2 separate regions of the Homo sapiens genome follow, and region 2 is linked to region 1. Evidence: fine-mapped expression QTL. Tissue or cell type: whole blood. Region 1 holds a variant in brackets; the other region holds the start of a gene. All regions are shown on one strand. Distances are between the middles of the regions.

Region 1 (8,067 bases):
ATCATCTGCGGTCAGGAGTTCAAGACCAGCCTGTCCAAAATGGTGAAACCCCATCTCTATTAAAAAAAAAAATTAGTCGGATGTGGTGGTGGGCGCCTGTAATCCCAGCTACTCTGGAGGCTGAGGCAGGAGAATTGCTTGAACCCGGGGGACGGAGGTTGCAGTGAGCCGAGATGGCGCCACTGTAGTCCAACCTGGGAGACAAAACTCTGTCTCTAAAAGACAAAAAAAAAAAAAAAAAAAAAGGAAAGGTTAATCATATCTATTTGCAAAGCTGTTTTGACAAAGAATGTAGCATGAGGCATATGGTACCTGCTTAATAAATGTTTTTAGAGACAAGGTCTTGCTTTGCTGTCTAGGCTGGAATGCAGTAGCGTGATCATGGCTCACTGCAGCCTTGAACTGCTGCCTCAAGCGATCCTCCCGCCTCGACCTCCCAAAACGCTGAGATTACAGGCATGAGCCAAGCGCCTGGTCCCACTTAAATATTAGCCATTTATTAGCTGTTGATGTTAAATTACCTAGGACTGAGCTTGGAACCAAGAAGGAGATAGTTAAGAGGTGGTGGAGGAAGCAGGGCCTAGGTGTCACCCAGTTGGAAGAATGGGCAGAGGGACTGCCAGGCTGGCTCTGGGCAGGCTCTGGGGGCTGCCCTGCTGGGGGCGGGCTGTGCTGTTCATATTCACACCCAGGGGTGTCCACTGGGCTGGTGCTCCGCTGTGGAGCGGGGACAAGTCGCTCCACTCAACGCCCCTCAGAGAGCTCGTGGCATTGCCCCATCCCTGGCCCGGTGGCGTCCCGCCTTCGGAGAACGGGAGTGAGACAGACGGACACAGGCGGAGTCCAGGCGGCAGGGTTTATTCCGGTCCTCGGGCAGCCTCTCCGCCGTGGACGGGTCCCTCCCTGGGCTCCGGGCCCTGGCCGCCACCAGCCAGCAGCCTCCCGCTAGGCCGGGCGTCTCCGGGGCAGCCGGGTGGGCCCGAGGACGCGGGGCGGACGCGACGCAAGGCGCGGCGGGCACGGTGGCGGCGTCGGCGGCCGCACGGCCACAGGCGGCGGAAGCGCGCGCGGAAGTGGCGCGAGGCGAGCGCGTAGACGAGCGGGTTGAGGCAGGAGTTGGCGTAGGCCAGGCAGTGTGAGGCCAGGCGGCAGGCGTAGGTGGCCGGGCTGAAGGCGAAGCGGCCGTACCAGAAGCACAGGATGAGCGCGTGGTGCGGACCCCAGCAGAGCGCGTAGAGCGCGGCCACCGCCAGCATGGCGCGCCCCGCGCGGCCCGTCGCCCTCCGCCGCGCCTCGGCCGCCGCCGCGCCCGCGGGACCCACGGCGGCCCACAGGAAGCGCAGCGTGCGCCCGTAGGCCAGGCTCACCACAGCCACGGGCAGCAGGTAGCCGGCAGCGAAGGTGGCCACGTCCAGGGCGCGGCGGCGCGCGTCCTCCCAGGCGGGCACGCAGAGCTCCAGCGCGCCGTAGCGCACGGTGCCGTAGTAGCTGAGGTAGGGCGCCGAGAAGAGCGCCGCCAGCAGCCACACCAGCCCCACTGCGGCGCGGGCGTTACGCGGCGTGCGCAGGGCGCGCGAGCGCAGCGGGTGCCGCACGGCCAGGTACCTGCGGAGGGCGCCTGGTCAGCGGGGCGGGCAGGTGCCCTCCCGCAGGGGCCCGCGCCACGTCCCGCGCCCGGGCCCTGCGGCCCAGTGCGCCTCCTGTGAACCGTGGGGGACGTGGCGGGGATTAAGGGTGTGAACGCGCAAGGTGCTTAGGCCCTTGCACCTAGCAAGGGCCCGATCCCGGTGACTTGTTATTTCTAGGATTATTTTATGGATGCGTCAGATGAGGTCCAGAGAGAAGTGACTTGCCCAGGGTCATCAGCTGGAGTGAGCCTGGATTTGACCCCAAGTTTCAAGCTGTGGAAGCAGATGTGTGCACAGCTTGGCCAGGTGTGGGCAGTTAGAAAATAGCTGGGCTGGGCGCGGTGGCTCACGCCTGTAATCCCAGCACTTGGGAGGCCGAGGCGGGCGGATCACTTGAGGTCAGGGGTTCGAGACCAGCCTGTCCAACATGGCAAAACCCCGTTTCTACTAAAAATACAAAAAATTAGCCAGGTGTGGTGGCCTGTAATCCCAGCTACTCAGGAGGCTGTGGCAGGAGAATCGCTGGAACCCAGGAGGCAGAGGTTGCAGTGAGCCAAGATCCAAAAAAAAAAAACAACAAAACAAAACAAAACAAAAAAACTGATGAACGCATTCGTGAGCTTCTTTTGCGATTCATTTCGCGCTTACAGAGCACTTACTATGTGCCAGACCCTGTGCTGCCACTTGAGACTCAGAGGCGTCCTCTGGAAGTTCACAGTGGAGGAGGGGAAGGGCAGGACAGTCCCCTCAAGCACGCCCTGCAGGTGCCCAGAGGCTGCTTGCGAGGGGTCAGGGAGCTTTTGTTTCCTCCCACCCACCTCCCTTTCTGGTCCCCCACTCTCTCCTTCCTAAGGCCAGTGAGGATCTGTTCAGGACTCCTCCCCCAACCCCCGCCCCCACAGCCCTGCCCAGCCAGGCCCCAGGCACAGCGCACCTGTCCACGGAGACAGCAGCCAGCGTAAAGCTGCTGGCGTACATGGTGAGGTAGATGAGCAGGTGCACGGCCTTGCAGACGAGGGCCCCAAAGAGCCAGGCATCCAGCGTGTAGATGGTGGCCTGGAAGGGCACGCAGCACAGGATGAAGCAGAGGTCAGCCACCGCCAGGTTGAGGATGAACAGGTCCGTGGTGCTGCCAGGCTCCTGCCAGGCACTCGGGCCAGGCTGCAGGAGCACTGCCAGCACCAGCCCATTGCCCACTGTGCCCAGCAGGAAGATTAGGGCAAAGACCACAGGCACTGCCACGGCCCCCACACTCCCTGGGCTGTCCAGTGAAATGTTCTGGGCATCAGCCATCTCCCCATCAGACGGGCACCTGGGAAGAGAAGCTGGAATCCTCAGGCAAGAGCCCCCAGTTCTGGTTGCTTGACCCCGGGATCTAACTCCCCCGACCTGGGTCTGGCCAGGTGTTCTGGGCTGGAAGCTCGTGGGAGATGGAGGAGGGGAGAGCAGAGCCAAAGTCATCGCTGAGTGTCACTGTGTGAGCAAGCTCGTGGTGTTCAAGGGGTGAGAGTTCCTCAGTTTCCTAAGGAACACCCCTGGAGTCCTGCCTGGAGGACTACCTAGGTATTTGAGGGACACTTTCAACCCACGAGGCTGGGGAAGGCACAAGCGAAGTAGGATGAAGATATGGCGATGGGGGGAGGGGCCAAACCCAGAAACTGGTATGTTTTCCTTCTCAATGGGGATCTGAAGCTCAGGGGAGACCCTGGGACATGGGTTTAGGGCTTTCTCTGGCTACAAGCTGTAGCCTTAGCAAAACACGGGTAACATCCCTGAGTCATTGGAGGGTCCAGTATAGTGAGATCATCACAATGGCAAAACTGGGAAGACCGTGTAGGTCACTGCTTCCTCTCTGCACATAGGGAAATTGAGGCCCAGAGAGGGGACATGGGAGGATAATATCACACTCGAAATGGCAGCTCTGGGGCTGTTGCCACCCTGGTATCCTGCCTCTTAAGCTAGAGTGCTCATCTGAGAGCTTGTAACAGGTGGTGCCTCTGACAACTTGTGTGTGTGCACACCGCACCCATGCTCACCCCCATCCCACTCTACAGCCCATGTCTCCTACTGCCTGTGGATCTCCTTGCAGGCTTGAGACCACTGGGGTGGTGGGACAAAGTAGGGGAAAGGGGGGTCAGGCAGGGAGTAGGGAAGAAAGGCAATGTCTGCCCCCATCCCAGCACCCAGCATGCAGTAGGTCCCCAAAGCCCAGGATGGGCAACACCCACCTCCGCCTTGGGCAGTGGGCTTGATCCTGGGTGGAATGGCCGGGCTGGGTGGGCCTCCTGATTCAGCGGCTGCCCCTTGGTGCCTCCCTGCAGGTACTGGTCTGCCTTCTACTTCTCCCCCTTTGCCTTTAAGGCCCCTCCTCTCCTCTGCCCCCTCTGCTGAGCCGGAGTTGGGCACTCCCTCTGGAGTAGCCACTGGCCACTTCCTCCTCAGTCCCTGATTTCCCCCAGGTGGCAGGCTCTTCTGCCTGGCTCTTCTCTGCCTCTCTGCGTTGCTGCTGCCTTTTCCTCTCTCTGCAGCCAGTAACCCATTGATCTCGCTCTCTGTGATTTGCTTTGTAGTTAACCCCTCTGTGCCCAGGGCCCAGCCAGTCTCTGGCACTCCCACCTCCTGTGGCCCAGCCTGATGTGACTCCATCCCCTATCCCTGCACCTTCTTGCTCCAATCCATGTTTAGAAAAGGTTCCTAGGCCGGGCATGGTGGCTCACGTCTGTAATCCCAGCACTTTGGGAGGCTGAGGCAGGCAGATCACTTGAGGCCAG[G/A]AATTCGAGACCAGCCTGGCCAATGTGGCGAAACCTTGTCTCTACTAAAAATACAAAAATTAACTGAGCGTCGTGGCGGGCGCCTGTAATCCCAGCTACTCTGGAGGCTGAGGCAGGAGAATCGCTTGAACCTGGGAGGTGGAGGTTGCAATGAGCCGAGATGACGCCACTGCACTCCAGCCCAGGTGATGGAGTGAGACATTGTCTCAAAAAAAAAAAAAAAAAAAAAAAGAAGAGGCTGGGCGCGGTGGCTCATGCCTGTAATCCCAGCACTTTGGGAGGCCAAGACAGGTGGATCATGAGGTCAGGAGTTCAAGACCAGCCTGGCCAAGATGATGAAACCCCATGTCTACTAAAAATACAAAAATTAGCTGGGTGTGGTGGCGGGCACCTGTAATCCCAGCTGCTCGGGAGGCTGAGGCAGAGAATTGCTTGAAGCCAGGGGTTGGAGGTTGCAGTGAGCCAAGATCGTGCCACTGCACTCCAGCCTGGGCGACAGAGCGAGATTCCGTCTCAAAAAAAAAAAAAAAAAAAAAAAAAAAAAGGATTCCTAGTCTTGACTGGGGTTTCCTGGAGTGGGAAACCAGGACTTGAGTCTCCTTTCGGCAGACTCCAGAGACTCCTCCCTCAGGCTCTGCAAATCCTGAGATCCTTCTCCGGAAGCTCTTTCCAGAGCCTTAGTCCAGCTGGAGCCCAGATGGTTTAGGTACCTGTCCAAAAAGTCTGGCTTTACCTGATAGCAACGGGGAACTACTAAGATTCTACAGCAGAGACATGACCCGCACATTTTCTTTCTTTCTTTCTTTTTTTCCCCCCACATTATCTTTTGTAAAAAGTTTGTTATGGGCCAGGCGCAGCGGCTCACACCTGTAATCCTAGCACTTTGGGAGGCTGAGGTGGGCGGATCATCTGAGGTCAAGAGTTCGAGACCAGACTGGCCAACATGGCAAAACCCTGCCTCTACTAAAAATACAAAAATTAGCTGGGCATGGTGGCTCACACCTATAATCCCAGCTACTCAGGAGGCTGAGGCACGAGAATCGCTTGAACCTGGGAGGTGGTGGTTGCAGTGAGCCGAGATCGCTCGCACTCCAGACTGGGCAACAGAGCGACTCTGTCTCAAAAAAAAAAAAAAAAAAAAGTCTATTATTGCCCGGGGTGAAAAGGATGGACAGAGTGGGAGAGATTTGATGAGTGACCTGTTAGGAGCCTCTCGTCTAGGCAAGAGCCAAAGAGGAGAATAGGTCTTGGTGAACGGCTGTGTGATTTGGTCATGGAGTTCTGTCCTGAACTGTGTGGAGGAGGGGCCACATGGCCAAATGCCTCCAGAGGGTTAGGGAGGCTAGCACCTGGGGAGCAAGGTACACTGGATTCAGCAATGAGGAGGCTGCTGGTAAACTGGACAGGTGTTTTGAGGGCAAAAGGCAGTCTGCAGTGAGTTAAGGAAGGGAGGGGAGAGGTGGAGGGGCTGAGTGTAGTGTTTTTAGAAGCTGGGGCTGGGGTTGGGGAGCATCAAGGGGAAGTGCGTAAGGGGAGAGAAAACAGTGTGAGGGGCGCTGATGGAGCCAGGACTCGCATCCCAGGCCGGAGGAGCTGGGGTAGATGCTCAGAACTAGCTCCTTAAGGCCAGGCGTGGTGGCTCATGTCTGTAATCCTAGCACTTTGGGAGGCCAAGGCAGTTGGATCACTTGAGGTCAGGAGTTCAAGACCAGCCTGGCCAACATGGTGAAACCCATCTCTACTAAAAATTAGCCAGGTATGGTGGTGCACACCTGTAATCCCAGCTACTTGGGAGACCGAGGCAGGAGAATGGCTTGAGCCCGGGAGGCGGAGGTTGCAGTGAGCGGAGACTGTGCCACTGCACTCCAGCCTGGGCAACAGAGCAAGACTCAAAAAAAAAAAAAAAGAAAAGAAAAGAACCAGCTCCTCAAAGGCCCCGGGGTTTTCACGAGGGCTCAGAGGTGCCTCTATAGAGCCTGATGTCACCTTCTTTAGATGCAGAAATTCCTCAATTTTTGGAAGCAGAGTCTCACGGAATTGAAACTATTAGGAATCTAATCTAGACTTGCCAAACCTGAATTCAGAAGCTTCAGAATTGAATTAATATATATATATATTTTTGAGACAGTCTCGCTCTGTTGCCCAGGCTGGAGTACAGTGGTGCGATCTCAGCTCACTGCAAGTGCAAGCTCCGCCTCCCAGGTTCACGCCATTCTCCCACCTCAGCCTCCCGAGTAGTTGGGACTACAGGCGCCCACCACACCCGGCTAATGTTTTGTTTTTGTATTTTTAGTAGAGACGGGGTTTCACCGTTTTAGCCAGGATGGTCTCGATCTCCTGACCTCGTGATCCGCCCGCCTCGGCCTCCCAAAGTGCTGGGATTACAGGCATGAGCCACCGCGCCCGGCCAGAATTGAATTAATTCTGAATTGAATTCAGAATTGAATTGCGCAAAGGAATTGTAGACTCTTATGATCCCTGAATGGCGAGACTCAGCTTGGTGGGATTTTAGAAACTTTGACAGACCTGCAACCACTGCGTGAAAGTAACGCACCCTTAGACTCCCAGAAGCCTGGACGAATGTGCATGCCTGAACCCTGGAACGGGCTGGAAAGCATCTGAGATTCATGACTTCGCACTCCTGGCCCTTGGGAGCCCCCTGCCCACAAGGTCCTTCTTGGCCTAGGGCGATGAGCTCCCAGCAGCGGCAAGGCTAAGCTGATATGAGAGCGGAGGTGGAGGGAAGGAGGAAGGAACAGGCGGCCATAAAGAGCGCGGCCGTGAGCCTAGACCTTGGGTGCGCCCGGTGCCACCTCCATCCACTCCTACTGCCGCTTCTGGTAGCCCGCGGCCCTGAACCCCGTGCGCGACGCAGAGAACAAGGACATTGCGCCCTTGGGGCGGTCCTCAGAGCCTCTGATTCTGCAGAACGCAGACTTGCAGCTGGTCCACGGCCGGCCCTCCCGCCCCGCGTGGCCCTACAGCTTGTCGTGGGCGGCCGGCGACTACCGGTAGGCGCCCAAGCCGAAACACGTGCACCCAGAGCGGCTGCTGCGCCTCCTACAGACACCTTCTGGATGACTGCGGAAGAAGCGCGGCGGCGGACCCGGGCTGGTGCAGCAGGACACGCTGAGCCGCGGGTTGGCCAACGGCGTGGAGCCCTACCGCGATCGGCTAGCCCAGGGGGTCGCGGCGCTGCCAGCGCAGCAGGGCAACGCCAGCGGCGGCTCCTGGGAGCCACAGGGGCGGCGACGCACTTTCTGCGCCGCTGTCTGGATCTCGCCTCGTGCCGCCTCACGTCGGTCTGGGTGGACCTGGGCCCTCTGTTCTGGCCCCGCCGGGTGCAGCACACCGACTGCCACACGTCACCCCGCAGCTGCCCGTGGCGCTTAACATGAGCTGCTGGCTAGAGCAGACCATGCTCATCCAGCTGCTGGCTCGACATTACTGGTTGAGCCCTTGTGCACATCCCCTGCAGCAGCGCGCCTGGTGCCACGTGCCCTAGCCGGTGGTGGTGGGCTGCAAATGTTCCTGCCGCTAATGTGGCCACAGCTACCCCAGCCAGGCTGCCTTCCACCCTCACACCGACCCCCCACACCCCCCCTCCCCCAGCTCCTGGACCCCAGCAGCAAGGTCCTCCGGATCGCAGGCTGGGATTCCCTGAATCC
Region 2 (8,067 bases), 84 kb before region 1:
CAAGCTGGTGGAGTCCCAGCTTGGTAAAGGGCAGGCCTCGCAGATATGAGGGAGCCAGGTAAGCACAGCCCCCTCCTCCTGCCCCCAACACTTTTCCAGGCAGGGGCCAGGGACTGTGAACCCTGGGCAGGAAAGAGTTGCTTGAGGACCTTGGAAGGGGTCTGGTGCCCCAGGGCTGGGTGGACGGGGAGAGGCAAGGTGACTATGTCTGGGCACCAGCTCCCTTTTTGCCACTCTGACCAGGCCACTTCCTTCTCCCCTGGGCTGCCTCCCTAGCTCCCCTTTTCTGCCACTGCCTCAGAGTGCGACCTTAGCAAGGTGTTTCACCTCTCGAAACCTCTGTCTCCCGGTCCGGTTCAGGACACTGCAACAGGGCGAGGAAAACACCATGGTACCCAGCCCCCAACAGAGGCTTTTTCCAAGACCAAATGAGACAAAAGCAACTTGTCTCAGCCGTTTATTTCGGTCACCCCAGAAGTGTTCCAAGAAGGCTGGGGTCACATTCTAGCTACTCTGTGCCCCCAACTCCCTACACAGTTCCCCAAATTTCGAAGATGCTCCGTAAATGTTTGTTGAATGAATCAATGTTGAAAACAGTGTGAAAACTGTAAAAAACCTTCAGGATCCTGCAGGTTTTCTTCCACCCCCATCTCTGTCCCTAATTAACATCTGTGTTTTGGTAACACATATATTTTCTGAGAGTCTTCAGAGGCCTGCGGAGTTCTACTTGGCTCTGGGGAAGATGAAGGACACAGAAATGAAACCCACATGGTCCACGCCCTCAAAGGAGCTTAAGCATGTCTGGATTTCGGGTGGTGCGGAGGGATGGCCCAGCCCCCACAACCCTCGTCCCAGCAGAGCCCTGGGCCAACACTGGGTTCACCCAGGCAGGGCCCACAGCCCCAGAAGCCTGAACCAATTTAGGAGATGATTCTTGCCCTCACTCTAGGCCACTCCTATTCTCACGGAGATCCTCCCAACCCATCACTGAGGACTTCCCTACACATTATGTGGGACCTGGGCCTCAGCTTCTCTCCTGTGCAATGCGCTGGCAATATTGCAAATGAATGCCTGGACATGATTCTGGATCTCAGAAGCGGAGCCACCCTCCCCTGCACATTTTTTCCAGCCACATCCCTCCCTTGCTTAAAACCTACGTGGTTGGCCAGGCGCGGTGGCTCACACCTATAATCCCAGCACTTTGGGAGGCCAAGGCAGGTGGATCACGAGGTCAGGAGATTGAGACCATCCTGACTAACACAGTGAAACCCCGTCTCTGCTAAAAATACAACAAATTAGCCAGGCATGGTGGCGGGCACCTGTAGTCCCAGCTACTCGGGAGGCTAAGGCAGGAGAATGGCGTGAACCCAAGAGGTGGAGCTTGCAGTGAGCAGAGATCATGCCACTGCACTCCAGCTTGGCTGACAGAGCGAGACTCCGTCTCAAAAAAAAAAACCTACGTGGCTCGGCCAGGCATGGTGGCTCACGCCTGTAATCCCAGCACTTTGGGAGGCCGAGGCAGGCGGATCACCTGAGGTCAGGAGTTCGAGACCAGCCTGGCCAACATGGTGAAACCCCATCTCTACTAAAAACTACAAAAATTAGCCAGGCATGGTGGTGCGTGCCTGTAATCCCAGCTACTTGGGAGGCTGAGGCAGGAGAATCGCTTGAATCCGGGAGGCAGAGGTTGTGGTGAGCCGAGATCACGCCACTGCACTCCAGCCTGGGTGACAGGCCTCCATCTCAAAAAAACAAAAACAAAAACAAAAAAAACCCTGCATGGTTCCCTGAGGCCCCTATCCATGCTCCTTAGCCAGCAAAAGCAGCTGTCAGCCATCTGTCCCAACTGCATCTCCCAACTCGCTACCTTGTGCTCCCCACTCAGCTACACAGCCTCCAGCTTTGCACACACCTCCCGCCCCTTGCCTTTGCTCAGATGGGGTCCCATGCCAGAACGTCCACCCAGCAGCCCTCACCTGGCTCCTGCCATCTCCTTGAAGACTATATTCTCCCTAGGAGGTCTCCCACCCCCAGCCCTCTGATAGGGTACATGGAATTGCCATCATCGTTTATACACGTTTCCCCTACAGGTGTGGGAGAGCGTGTAGGGTTGCCTGTTTTGTCGATTGGTACTTCCATTACCAGGTACAGTGTCCAGCACAGAGCAATATGACTCTACAAATACTGGTTGAATAAATGAAGAAATCAAACATTGTTATTGGGCCAGGCATGGTGGCTCATGCCTGTAATCCCAGCATTTTGGGAGGCTGAGGTAGGCAGATTACTTGAGCTCAAGAGTTCAAGACCAGCCTGGGCAACATGGTGAAAACCCATCTCTACAAATACAAACAAATTAGACAGGCGTGGTGGCGTGTGCCTGTGGTCCCAGCTACTAGGGAGGTTGAGGTGGGAGGATTGCTTGAGCCCGGGAGGTGGGGGCTGCAGTGAGCCATGACTGTGCCACTGCACTCCAGCCTGGGTGACAGAGTGAGACCCCATCTCAAAAAAATAAAAAACATTAAAAAAAAAAAAAGTAACATTAGTTACTCACAGTAACTAATGTTAAATGAATGCTTGTTATCTCATGCAATCCTCACATTTCTGTGAGCTGTGTCACATTATCAATCCCACCTCACAGATGAGGACACTGATGCCTGGAGAGAGCCCATGAGGACCCAAGGCCATGCGCCTAAGACATGGAGAAGCTAAACACAAACCAGGCGGCCTTTATTTACTTTGATGCCACCAGGCTCAGGCCCACCAAATGGCTTCACTTCACACCCAAGTCCCCTCCCACACTGGGTTTGTCCCTGCTTCCTGCCTCACTCCTGCCCCTCAAACAAAACAGAAGACCCCTTGGGCCCTCCCTTCCAATGCCCAGGTCTAACCCTGGTGCCCTTTTCCTCCATCCTTCTACCCCCTGCTCCTGGGCAACCAGGCATCAACCTTGTGCTTCCATTAGTATGGGTGTCACATGCCCCACAGCGGGCAGGGGCCCACCTACATGACCACCTCATCTTGTTCCCTTCTGTATCCACAGCCCCAAAACCCTCTCCTCCAGGGCCCAAGCCACCACCCACAGACACGGTACTGCAGGGTACATACAGGTAAACCAGGTGCACCTGCATCATGGAATCCTGAGGCAATCCCTTAGAAGCCTTCCCACATGCTGCCCTCGGACAGTGCAAATCTGGAGGTGGAACAGGCACAGAAAGCCTCCATCTGCCAGGCTGGGGGAGCCCTGGCAAGAGGGCTGCATGCGAAAGGGGTAGGGACCAGAACTCTCCTCCCTGATTCACAGGTGAGACCTGAAGTGCAAGGAATGGCACCAGATAAACTCACCCAGTGTTTTAGGAATGAAGGGACGAAAGGAGGAGAGGTTCCAGGGCTCAAGGCAGAGAGAGCAAAGACAGAGGCTCCAAGTCAACTGTTCCGGGGAGTCTGAATGCATTTTCCCATGAGAACCTCATTGGGCAGCTCTGGGCAGGAAGGGGCCATTTCACAACCTGCAGCACCCGGTTGGTGTCTATCAATCGGATCCTAGGAGTCTTCCCAACATTGCCGGCCTGTGACTCCTCTTGCGCGCCCCACCTGCGTGCCCCACTGAGGAGGGCTGCAGGGCCATCGAGCACACACCCGGGAGGCAGGGCTGCGTCCTAAGTTGGGGGGCGTGGGGAAAGCACAGGGTCTGTACATCCATTCATCCAACACCTGTTAGCCGAGGTCTCCTCTGTGCCGGGAACTGTGCTACTGTCCGGAGACAAGCTCCTATTTGGGGGTCAGAGAAGTGGGGGTTCACCTGCACACCCGGAGCAAGGGGCCACCCCGAGTGGGAAGCCTCGGGGGAGAGGGGAGGCCCGGCGAGCCCGTGGAGAAGAGTTTAGGGTAGGAGAGGCCCAGGGCCCCCAAAGAGGGCTCAACACCCCTTCAAAGAGGTCAAGGGCTTAGGGGTTCAGCGATCCTCGGCGGAAATCAGCGCTTTGTGGGCGGGGCCAGTGTCCCCGCGGAGGGACCAGCCTCGGGGGAGAGTTCGGGATCCCACGGGCGGGGTCAGGGCGGCCGGGCGGGGGAGGGGCGCCCTGGGCCGGGGTCTCAGGGACCCGCCCGGCGTCCGGGGCCGTCGGGGGGGTCGGCGTCTCCGTGTCCGGGGGCGGCGCCTGTCACCGCCCGGGCTTCGTGTTACTGAGGGGGGGCGGCGGTCGCGGCCCCAGCCCGCCCCGCGCCGCCCGCTCGCCCGGGGCCCCGCACTCACAGCAGGTCGGGCCGGTGCCGGTGCAGGATGGCGCAGAAGGCCAGGCCGTCCCGGAAGGAGCTGCTCAGGTCGCGGATCTCCACGCCGCGGTAGCCCTCGCACTGGCGGCGGCACCAGGCCAGCAGCGCGCCCCGCGGCCCAGCCATGACCCCGCGGCCCGCCCGGCTCCGGCTCTGGCTTCGGGGCCCCGGCTTGGCCGGGACGGCGGCCGCCGCGCGGGCCCGGTTTCCGGCTGCGGCTGCGGCTCCGAGCTCGGGCGCCGACCGGCAGGCGAGGGGAGGGGCGGAGGCGGGGCCGCGGTGTCCTCGCTCGGGCGCCCCGCGGCCCTGCCCTAACCTGCCCGAGCAGCGCCGCCGCGTGGCCCGGCCCGGCCGGCCGCCGCCTACTCCGCGCTGCCCGCTCGCCTCATTGTGGGCCGGTCGTGGGAGCGGGCGTCCCGCCGCCTCCGTCCGCGCCGGAGGCGCGCCCCACCCAGCAGCAGCTCCGCCTCCAGTGCGGAGCCCACCCCTACCAAGACGGGCCGGCGCCCCATCGCCCGCCCCTCGACGGCGCCGGGCTCCCGCTGCTCCACTGGGTGCCCGCGAAGCCCCCGCACCCGCCGCAAGCGGACCACTCCCCACGATGACTTCACCGCCGCGGCCGCCGCCGCGCCACCCACCGGGAGCCCTCCACCCTTTGGAGGCGGGACACCTCGTGCTCCCATCCGGCCTCCTTCCCGCTCCTAATGACCGCAAATCCCCCCTTCCACCCCTAGCTTGAAACTTTGGGGAGGCAGTTCCCCTGCAGACCTCAGAGCACCCCCCCCCGGATAGCCACCAGCTTCCCTCATCCCGGCTCCCCACCCTAAAGCACCGCTGAGCTGGAAGTTGTCATGTCCACCATCCCCTCCCCCATAGCTTGGCAGGGAGACCCATGCGCCCCTCCGCCACCTTTGGTCCAGGTGTCCCCTAGGTGATTCACTGAGCTCCCCTCAGCCCCTGTGTAAGCTCAGGGATCTCGTCCCTCCCCACTGCGGCCTGCCGGGTCCCCTCAGCCATGGTTAGTGTGGTGGTGGTTTGAGTTCCTATGGGAAGGACCTAGGCCAAGGAGGCCCCTGCCTGGGAGGCATACAGGCAGTTTGTATCTGGCCCTGGAACCTCCCCAAGGCTCATTCTCTATCTTTGCCGTCTTCAAAACCCCCGCCAGCCAACCGACCCTTCCAGCCAGCCAACCCTTCCAGCCAGCCGACCCTTCCGCAGAGGCCCCTCCTGACTCTCCCACAGATGAATCAGCCTCCATCTGCTGCAGAGGTGGTGATGTCACCCTGACCCATGCAATAGTTAGCTGGAGTGGGTATTTCGCTCCCTCCCAAGGGAAGGAACAGGGTCTTAGTCATCTTCATCACCCCTGAGCACTCAGGGGAGTGGAAAGATCAGGCATTTTGGAGCCCTATTAACCCAATCTCCAATCCTGGCTTTCCCCACTCCCTTAGTCATGTGATCTTGTGCCTCCCTGGACCTCAGTTTCCACGACTTAAAAATGGAGATAATACCTGCTTTACAAGGTGGCTGAGAGGATTAAGATGTAAAGTGCCTTACCCTTTAGTTATCACTCATAAATTCTATTGACTCCTGGTACTTGGTAAACATGATGAAATGGACTGAAATATTTTGTACCCAGATTGTCATCTGGGCCATTCTGGGTAAATTATCAAGGAGAGAGGCCGACTTAGGGAATTCTACCTCTTCAAAGTCCACTGAGTCCCAGTCCAGAATACTGGCCCAGGGCCTGGAGAACCCAGCTTGCCAATCTGGGCTGGCCTAACACTCCTGCAACTGGAAGGCCGCCATCTTGGCTCAGTATATGGACTCTCAGGCCACCTAGGAAGAGCATGGCCAGAGTGCCTGGCTAGCCCTCTGGACTTCTCACCAGCCCTGAGCTGCCAACTCCTGCCCTGTCCCCTGTGGGATAACAGTGGCAGGAAAGCAGGATTCCGGATGCTTTTTATGAAATCAGGGACTTGGGTTCAGGATCCTGACACCAGCATCCACCTAGGCCTTCAAAGACCACCCAGGACTCTCATTAAAACCTAAGGGGGGCGGGGTTGGGCACCATGGCTCATACCTGTAATCCCAGCATTTTGGGAGGCCGAGGCAGGTGGATCACCTGAGGTCAAGAGCTTGAGAACAGCCTGGCCAACATAGTGAAACCCCGTCTGTACTAAAAATACAAAAAATTGGGCCAGGCGCGGTGGCTCACTGTAATCCCAGCACTTTGGGAGGCCAAGGTGGGCGGATCATGAGGTCAGGAGTTCAAGACCAGCCTGGCTAAGATGGTGAAAGCCCGTGTCTACTAAAAATAAAAAAATTAGCCAGGCGTGGTGGCACGTGCCTATAGTCCCAGCTACTCGAGAGGCTGAGGCAGGACAATCGCTTGAACCTGGGAGGCGGAGGTTGCAGTGAGCCAAGATCACGCCACTGTACTCCAACCTGGGGGACACAGCGAGACTCCATCTCAAAGATGGTGGGTTTTTTTGGCTCACGCCTGTAATCCCAGCACTTTGGGAGGCCAAGGCAGGCAGATCACGAGGTCAGGAGATCGAGACCAGCCTGGCTAACACGGTGAAACCTCATCTCTACTAAAAATACAAAAAATTAGCTGGGCGTGGTGGCACACACCTGTAATCCCAGCAGGAGAATGGCTTGAACCCGGGAGGTGGAGGACGCAGTGAGCTGAGATCGCACCACTGCACTCCAGCCTGGGCAACAGAGTGAGATTCCATTTAAAAAACAAAAAACCAAAAACAAACAAAAGAAACCAGGAGGGATTATAGCCCTGTCCTCACTAGCCTAAAGGGCTCCCTTTAGGTCCCTGAAGACAGCTCCATATCTGATCCTGTTGCCATACTAATAGCTTACACAGCACAGCCTGGTCACCCCCATTAGCCATTTGTGGGCTTTATAAACTCATTATCTGAGTCAGCTCACAATGTTTCGAAGTAAGGACCTGTACGACCACAGTGTGTGACCGCAGGCCAGACAACTCACCCTCATGAACCCCAATTTCTTACCCTATAAAATGAGGATGATAATACTTGCTTTGCCTGAATCCCAGGGTTGTGGGTAACAAGGTGAGATAATGGATGAGAAAATGCTGTGCAGACTGTAAATCCAGGGTTCAGGTGGAAGGTGGGTCTGTGTGTTTACAGGTGAGATCAGAAGCCACAGAGATAGGTGAGTAGGGCACTTGCCCAAAATCATGCTATAATTTCGGGATTAGAATTGAGAGACTTGGGCCCTTAATTCAGTGCTGTTTTGTTTTATTTTTAACTATCAATTAAGAAATGGGGCCAGGCACGGTGGCTCATGCCTGTAATCCCAACACTTTGGGAGCCAAGGCCAGGAGTTCAAGACTAAACCAGCCTGGGCAATATAGGGAGACCCTGTCTTTTTTTGAGACGAGTCTCTCTCGCCCAGGCTGGAGTGCAGTGGCACGATCTCGGTTCACTGCAACTTTCATCTCCCAGGTTCAAGTGATTCTCCTGCCTCAGCCTCCCTAGTAGCTGGGATTATAGGCATGGGCCACCAAGCTCAGCTAATTTTTGTATTTTTAGTAGAGACACAGTTTCGCCATGTTGGCCAGGCTGATCTCAAACTCCTGAGTTTAAGTGATGTGCCCACCTCAGCCTCCCAAAGTGCTGGGATTACAGGCATGAGCCACCATGCCCAGCCTGAATACATCATTCTTATCAAAAATTTAAAAATAAATCTAAAGTTCCAGTTTGACTGTCTCCTTCAACTCTAGTCCCCTCCTAAGAAGTAGCTGCAGTTGTCGGT

What was found. PIP is the estimated chance that this variant, and not a neighbour inherited with it, causes the effect.
Region 2: it holds the start of MICALL1, and the variant in region 1 is fine-mapped to the expression of MICALL1 in whole blood (TOPMed, PIP above 0.99).

Annotation. Positions count from the first base shown.
Region 1 is chr22:37,818,261-37,826,327 of GRCh38, reverse strand. GALR3 (galanin receptor 3) reads right to left here and starts at 2,946. Exons shown (of 2, transcript NM_003614.2): 1 at 2,563-2,946; 2 at 843-1,605. The coding sequence starts at 2,921. The coding sequence ends at 858. RefSeq lists an enhancer at 6,685-7,236. The variant G/A (reference allele first, on the strand shown) is at 4,400.
Region 2 is chr22:37,902,754-37,910,820 of GRCh38, reverse strand. It overlaps MICALL1 (MICAL like 1), which reads right to left and starts at 4,524. Exons shown (of 16, transcript NM_033386.4): 1 at 4,253-4,524. The coding sequence starts at 4,398. RefSeq lists enhancers at 1-582, 2,572-3,385, 3,386-4,201, 4,202-5,017, 5,018-5,833 and silencers at 3,972-4,081, 4,192-4,911.